Homo sapiens: one gene and its partner. The protein of the gene in region 2 binds, or shares a complex with, the protein of the main gene of each other region. Each region holds a gene or a part of one and is shown on either strand. Other genes may lie near its edges.

Region 1 (3,600 bases), 2.8 Mb from region 2:
GCAACTTTCCCTATTTACCTCCTGTCTGTGCCTTCCCCACTGCTGCCTTGCAGTGACCGGAGGGAGCCCTCAGGATCAGGGCCTTCTTTGAAGCCCCATAACCTGCCTCGTACTCCCACCACACACCTGGTCTTCTGTCCCCGGCCCCAATTTTCCTCTTTGCCTGGTCCTGACCGCAGCCCCAACCTGCTGTGACCCCTCATCAGGGCGAGTGTTTCCTGGATGTCAGCTGTTTCACTTTCAGTTTGCACCCCTCCCAGAGCCCCATTTCCCCAGGCAGCCTCCAGCCCTCAGAAGGAGAGCGCCCTCCTCCTATCCCAGAGGGAGGGGGTGTGCAGCCCCACCCTGGGCCAAGCACACAGCCCCACCCCCACCGCCCAGGGCCTGGGGACCTTCGCCCACCCTCCTTCCGCTAGGCCTGGGAGTGTTTTCGAAAGTGCCCCAAGAGCTCTCAAGAAGGGGTGGAGGAGGGCTGGACCACCTGTGCCCTCACCCAGCTCCCCACTCCTCCTCGATCTGCCGGACAGGGACAGGGTGAAGGCAGACCTTCCTCTCCTCCACCTCTAGGGGCAAGGCCTTGTTAAAACAGAACTTTGCAGCCGGGCATAGTGGCCCACGAGGTCAGAAGTTCAAGACCAGCTTGGCCAACATAATGAAACCCCATCTCTACTAAAAATACAAAAATTAGCTGGGCATGGTGGCGTGCGCCTGTAGTCCCAGCTACTCGGGAGGCTGAGGCAGGAGAATCGCTTGAACCTTGGAGGCGGAGGTTGCGGTCAGCCGAGATTGCGCCACTGCACTCCAGCCTGGGCAACAGAGCGAGACTCCATTTCAAAAAACAAAAAAAAAGAGTTTTGCTTGCCTCCCACCCCCCGTAGCTCCTTACATAAGATGGCCTTCCTTCTTCCCCAGTCTCCAGGACCCGGCACCCCCAGGACAGTAGGGCTGGAGGATGCTGACTGCACCTCCAACTCCCTCTACCAACACCCCAGGCTTCCGAGGGGAGCAGGTAGAGCCTCAGAACACCCACCAAGGCCAGCAACCTATGCTGACTCAGGCCTAGCTCTGCCTCCCCCATCCAAGTGGCCTAAATTCCCGGTGAGGGGAGCCACCCCCGACTTCCTGGGCTTGCTGGGCCCCGATGAATGTTGCCCAGGGATACATGCCTGGCCAGGCCCTGGACCCAGTCTAGGGATGTTGGGCAGCAGCAAGCGCTGAGAAAGTTCTCTCTCTGCCCTTGACCTTGGCTCTGACCTCCACTCCCATCTCCCAGACTGTTAAAGGACCCAGTTCTTACAGTTCTCCGGCATCCAGGGCTGGGCCAAGAGGGGAAGCTGTGAGGGGCAGCCAGAGGCAGGCATGGCAGGATCAGGTCCCCAGCCGGGGCGGCAGACCTGCCCAGGGAAGCCTTGAGCTTCCCCTTCCCCACCCGGCTCCCGGCAGGCTCCCTGCCCCACCCTGGGGCTGGGGCTGCTGAGATCTGGGAGGATGGACAAGACCCTTCCAGCTTACCTGCCGGGATCCTGGCCCAACCCGGGTGGCTCAGCAGGGTGGAGATGGAGGTCCCGAGGGGCTGGCGGCTGCTGCTCCCAGGGGCTGAGTGGGAGCCCAGTTTCCAGGAATGGGCGTCAGTGCATTCCCGGCATCTGGATGTAGCCTTTACTTGTCCCTGTGCAGCCCGAGGGACCCGCGAGACTCCAGTGATCATAGAGGTGCCAGCGGCACCCGGCTCCAATCAGCTCCCTCTAGAGGAAGTTGCTCTGTGGCCACCGGATGCAGACGCACAGGCCGACAGCCTGTAGGGTGATCTGGGTGGGCCAGGCCCAGGAGCATGTCCCGCCCACTTTCCCCACCCCACCTCCCAGGCAGGCAGGGCGGCTGTCAGTGGCCCACTGCTTTTCCCATCCCTGATTCTCAATCCTTGTCTTTGATCTTCTCCCCCACCTCTACATCAATCAATACCAATAAAAAACCCAGGGTGAGAAGTTTCTTAAGCACTGCTGCATGCCTGGCACTTTAGCAACTATTTGTCTCATTGGATCTTCTCAGCAACTCTTGTAAGTGAGTGCTGTTGACAATACCCATTCAGATGAACAGAGGCTCAGCTGGGTTAATCATCAGTTCTGGGCCAGGCGCGGTGGCTCACGCCTATAATCCCAGCACCTTGGGAGGCTGAGGCAGGCAGATCACGAGGTCAAGAGATCGAGACCATTCTGGCTAACATGGTGAAACCCCGTCTCTACTAAAAATACAAAAAATTAGCTGGGTGTGGTGGCGGGCGCCTGTAATCCCAGCTAGTTGGAAGGCTGAGGCAGGAGAATCCCTTGAACCTGGGAGGTGGAGGTTGCAGTAAACCAGGATTGCGCCATTGCACTCCAGCCCTGGTGACAGTGCAAGACTCCATCTCAAAAAAAATAAATAGTAATAATCAGTTCTGTAGTCGCATTGGGGAATACTAATACTAGATTGAGATTCAACCTGCAATTTAGACCTGTGCACCATGCACCTTGGTGGTCTCTGGATGTTTGAAATCCTGAAGGTGATAGTCAAGTAAACGGAGATTAAAACTCAATAGAGGCTGGGCCCAGTGGCTCACGCCTGTAATCCCAACACTTTGGAAGGCTGAGGTGGGAGGATTGCTTGAGCCCAGGAGTTCAAGACCAGCCTGGGCAACAAAGTGAGACCATGTCTCTACAAAAAAAAATTAGAAATTAGCTGGGTATGGTAGTGCACACCTGTGCATTTGGTGGTCCCAGCTACCTAGGAGGCTGAGGCAGGAGGATCACCTGAGCACAGGAAGTCGAGGCCACAGTGAGCCATGTTTGCACCACTGCATTCCGCCCTGGGCAACAGAGCAAGACCTTGTCTCAACAACAACAAAAAAGGCAGCCAGCTGCGGTGTGTCACGCCTAGAATCCCATCCCAGCCATTTGGGAGGCCAAGGCAAGAGGATCGCTTGAGGCCAGGTGCAGGAGTTCCAGGCCAGCCTGGGCAACAGCAATACCCTGCTTATACCAAAAAAAAAAAAAAAAAAAAAAAAAATTAGCAAGGCATGGTGTTGTATGCCTGTGGTCTTAGCTACTGGGGAGGCTGAGGTGGGAGGATTGCTTGAGCCCAGGAGGTCGAGGCTGCAGTAAGCTATGATTGCACCAGGGCAACAGAGGGAGAGTCTGTCTCTAGAAAAAAAAAAAAAAAAAAAAAAAAGGCCGGGCACGGTGGCTCACGCCTGTAATCCCATCCCAGCACTTTGGGAGCCCGAGGCAGGCAGATCACCTGAGGTCAGGAGTTCAAGACCAGCTTGCCTAACATGGCGAAACCCCGTCTCTTTTAAAAATACACAAAAGGGAGGCCAAGGCAGGTGGATCACCTGAGGTCAGGAGATTGAGACCATCCTGGCTAACATGGTGAAACCCCGTCTCTACTAAAAATACAAAAAAATTAGCCGGGCATGGTGGCAGGCGCCTGTAGTCCCAGCTACATGGGAGGCTGAGGCAGGAGAATGGCGTGAACTCAGGAGGCAGAGCTTGCAGTGAGCCGAGATCACGCCACTGCACTCCAGCCTGGGTGACAGAATGAGACTCCGTCTCAAAAAAAAAAAAA
Region 2 (3,943 bases):
TTGTTTACTTTCTAAGTTGCACGGTGACCTCATCTCTATGCTGTTCTCTAATTTGTTCACCTGGCCGCGTTACTCTCTAACTGCTCTGGTGCCTTTCATGGAGATAACTTCGCGGCTCCCCTTCTCCACCCCATGATTCACACAATAGAAACTTCACAGAGAGCCAACCTGCTGCACACCCACAGCAGCACCCTGAGGGACAGAGTGTGTGGCACACACACGTGGACCCACAGTCAACACCACAGACATCCACGTGTCACCAGAACACACTTGTGCACACCACAGACCAACATGGACTCAAGACGCCCTGTATTTCTCCTGTCCCAAGTGTAAGGGAATAATTATGTGACCAAGCTCACCGCTTGCCATCGGTCCTAACTCTAAATTCCATGAGAGGGGACCTGAGCCTGGGAGGCTCTCAGTGTTTGTGAAACAAACAAATGATACACAGGCATGTGCAAACCCAAACCAGCTCACCTTCATGCAGCCACACGGCGTCCAGAGAGCCGTTTCATTGACATGATCTCATTTCATCTTTGCCAGGAGCAGTGAATCAGATGGGCTAACAGTGGGGCACTGAGGCTCCGGACCATTAAGAGACACGCCCAAGGTCACATAGCCGGGAAGCAGAGAGCTGAGACTCTCCCACTTCTCCCGATTCAAATCCTACATTCTCTATTCTACACCAAATGGCCTCATGTAAGCATAGATACACATGCACGCACTTACACATGGACTTAGGGGAGAAACCTGCTATTTCACACTGATGGAGGTAATCACAGTCACATACACACCTACCATGACCTATGCACATGGAGTCACACAATCACGTGTGCCTAGGTATAGACACCCATGCCCTCCCCACCCCATTCTGTCCTCTATCCAAGACCACGGGCAATGCAACACTGTGTGAGGAGTCGGTCAGGACTGTGGGTTATAATCCACCTCCCAGCCTCTACATTCCCATCCAAGAGAGCAGTAGACCATGAGTTATTTTAATAAGATTTCCCCATTCTTGGACTAACTTCCAAAAACCTTAAAACTCATAGAACCTTAATTTAACCATAGGTCATAATAACACCTCTCATTTATCAGGGGGTTCCCTCATGTACCTTCACATAAAGTCTATAACTTGACCTCTACCACATCCTGAGGGAAACTAGCAGGTGAGCTATGTAATGCTGCCCCATCCTACAGACAAGAAAACTGAGGCCCAAGGAAGTGAAGTTCCTTGCTCAGGGTGGCGGCTAATAAGCAGGATTGGGACTTGAATACAGAGTTTTAAGTCCGAGTGAGCCCAGAGCCCTTTGAGAAACACCCCGTTGAGATAATGTCATTGAACCTTGCTCCCTCTTTTTAGAGATAAGAAAACTGATCCCCCACCTCCACCCCCATTGCCTCTCTGGGAGGGCCCAGCATGCTGGAAGCAGCATTGGGACTGGACTCTTGGTTTGACACCCAGGACTAAACTCTTCTCCGGACCCCAAGATACATACCCACTGCTCCCGCCCCCAAAGGAGAGGGTATTGTTCAACCAACCTTGGACCACAGAAATCGCTTCTGTCCTGAACACCCTGGGCTGGGATCTTCAGACAAGAGGTCTCTGTGTTAGGCTCTGCTCCCTGTCAGCTGGAAGTTGTGTCCAGTGAGAAGTCAGACCCAGCTCTCCCAGGGAGAAGATGCCACTACTTTGGTGCTGGCAATTTTCTGAGTGTCTCAGAAGATGCTTTGGCCGTCCATATATACAGTATCTCCCAGGAACTGAGCTCATGGCAGCCAATCCAGAGAGCCATGGGCTGGCTCACCTTCCTCCACCTGTTACCACCCATCCCAGGACTGCTCCCCGCTCCTCCAATGATAAGAGGCTTAGCTCAGCTACCCTGGAAAAAACAGTTTCACTTGTCAACTTCCTTATTGCACCCAAACCCCAGTAAGAAACCAAAGCTCAGAAAATAACCTAAGGTCTGGCTGGGGAAAACCCCACCTGTAGAGTTGAAAACAAGACTTAATGGGAAATGCAGGTTAGGGGGAGAAAGTCGAGGTGGCTTTATTGCCTTTACAACATCCCTCAGTTATCTTTGAAGATTAGTGGGGAGGGAGGTACCTAGAAAGAAAGGTCAGCGATGGGATACATACATCCCTTGACCTGGAGACAACCCAGAAGGAAGAGCCCACAAGAGCCACGTGTTCCAGATCTGCTATGCCCGGGAAGGGTTGCCATGGATCTTGAGAGAACATTCTAAGAAGTCTTAAAAAGTCAGATTTCCACTTTCTGTAATGCCTTATTTTAAAAAATAGAGTGTAAATACATGTTTATAATCAGAAAAGAAAAACATGTTTTATTAAAATGAAAGCAAAGGCCGGGCACGGTGGCTCACACCTGTAATCCCAGCAATTTGGGAGGCTGAGGCAGGCGGATCACCTGAGGTCAGGAGTTCGAGACCAGCCTGGCCAACATGGCGAAACTCCATCTCTACTAAAAATACAAAAATTAGCCAGGTATGGTGGCAGACACTTGTAATCCCAGCTACTTGGAAGGCTGAGGCAGGAAAATCACTTGAACCCAGGAGGCAGAAGTTGTAGTGAGCTGAGATCGTGCCACTGCACTCCAGCCTGGGTGACAGAGTGAGACTCTGTCTCAAAAAAAAAAAAAAAAAAAAAAAGAAAAAAAAAGAAAAAAATATTAAGAAATTCTGTTTTGGTTCATTAACACAGGGAGGCATCACAAAATATATATGGAAGCACCAAACTTTGGAGTCAGCCCCATCTGGAGACACCTGCCAGCTGTGTAACCACAGCAGGGGACATGATGTCACTGAGCTTGTGCTCACTTATAAAACAAGTAGTCATCTCAGAGGGTAGTTGGGCCAAATGCGATAATGCTTACAAAGAAAAGAAGAAGGCCAGGCATGGTGGCTCACATCTGTAATCCCAGCACTGTGGGAGACCAAGGTAGGAGGATTGCTTGAGCCCAGAAGTTCAAGACCAGCCTGGACAACATAGTGAGATCTTATCTCTACTAAAAATTTTAAAAATTAGCCAGGCATGGTGGCACATGCCTGTAGTCTCAGCTACTCAGGAGGCTGAGGCAGGAGGATTGCTTGAGCCCAGGAGGTCAAGGCTGCAGTGAGCCATGATCGTGCTACTGCACTCCAGCCTAGGCAACAGAGTGAGATCCTGTCTCAAAGGAAAAAAGAAGAAAGGAAGGAAAGGAAGGAAAAAAAGAAGGAAAGAAAGGAAGAAAGGGAGGGAGGGAGGGAGGAAGGAAGGAAGGAAGGAAGGAAGGAAGGAAGGAAAAAGAAAGAAAGAAAGAAACAAAGAAAGAGAAGGAAAGGAAGGAAGAAAGAGAAGGAAAGGAAGGAAGGAAATGTATGGAGTGCCAGACATCTTTCTTTCTGTGTATTAACAGTGCCTGGTACTTGTAAGGGCTCAATAAAGGGCCAATGTTTTATTACGGGCAACAGAGTTATTAATGCTTCATTCATTCTGTCAACAGGTTTTGGATCCAGCTATGTGACAGACACTGTCTCAGCACTAAATTTAGAATTTATTAGTCCAAGAAGTCACTCAGCCTTCAAACAAATGTTAAATAATATTACATATTTTTCATTTATTTAATGAAACTATTGTGTCAACCACTTCTTCCAGGCCCTGTGTGTATTGTATGTGTTCTTTCTTATTCCAAGGTGAATATGCCCAGCCTGGCCCAGCCCTCATGGAGTCCATAAAGTAGTTGGGAAGAGAGAAACACACAGAGAAAAATCATACAAGCAAGCAGAAGGGAATAGGAAGTTGTTTAATGCGTACAGAGTTTCAGTTTGAGAGGAATGTGGTACCACTACCTCCACCATTCAACCATCTCCACAACTTTTGAGATGTGGAGGATTTTCACAAGGCACACTCAAACTCAACTTTTGAGTTTGGAGATGGTTCAATGGTGGAG

What was found. Proteins that work in one complex are often made in the same cells at the same time.
Region 1: the proteins of BNIP5 (region 2) and BAK1 are in contact, whole or in part, in a crystal structure (PDB 8IGC), measured with the Homo sapiens proteins. Residues at the interface, in NP_001010903.3 of Homo sapiens: Ile246, Ile247, Gln248, Met249, Ile250, Val251, Leu253, Leu254, Lys255, Arg256, Val257, Gly258, Asp259, Gln260, Trp261, Glu262, Glu264, Gln265, Ser266; in NP_001179.1 of Homo sapiens: Leu78, Ile81, Gly82, Ile85, Tyr89, Glu92, Phe93, Met96, His99, Leu100, Tyr110, Lys113, Ile114, Ser117, Leu118, Ser121, Asn124, Trp125, Gly126, Arg127, Val129, Ala130, Phe134, Ala180, Leu183.

Annotation. Positions count from the first base shown.
Region 1 is NC_000006.12:33,578,513-33,582,112, forward strand, and holds the start of BAK1 (bcl-2 homologous antagonist/killer), read right to left. Parts: upstream 1,765-3,600; 5' UTR 1,513-1,764; intron 1-1,512. UniProt on the Homo sapiens protein: Plays a role in the mitochondrial apoptotic process. Upon arrival of cell death signals, promotes mitochondrial outer membrane (MOM) permeabilization by oligomerizing to form pores within the MOM.
Region 2 is NC_000006.12:36,335,173-36,339,115, forward strand, and holds the start of BNIP5 (protein BNIP5), read right to left. Parts: upstream 1,717-3,943; 5' UTR 1,540-1,716; intron 1,504-1,539; exon of another isoform or gene 478-1,503; intron 1-477.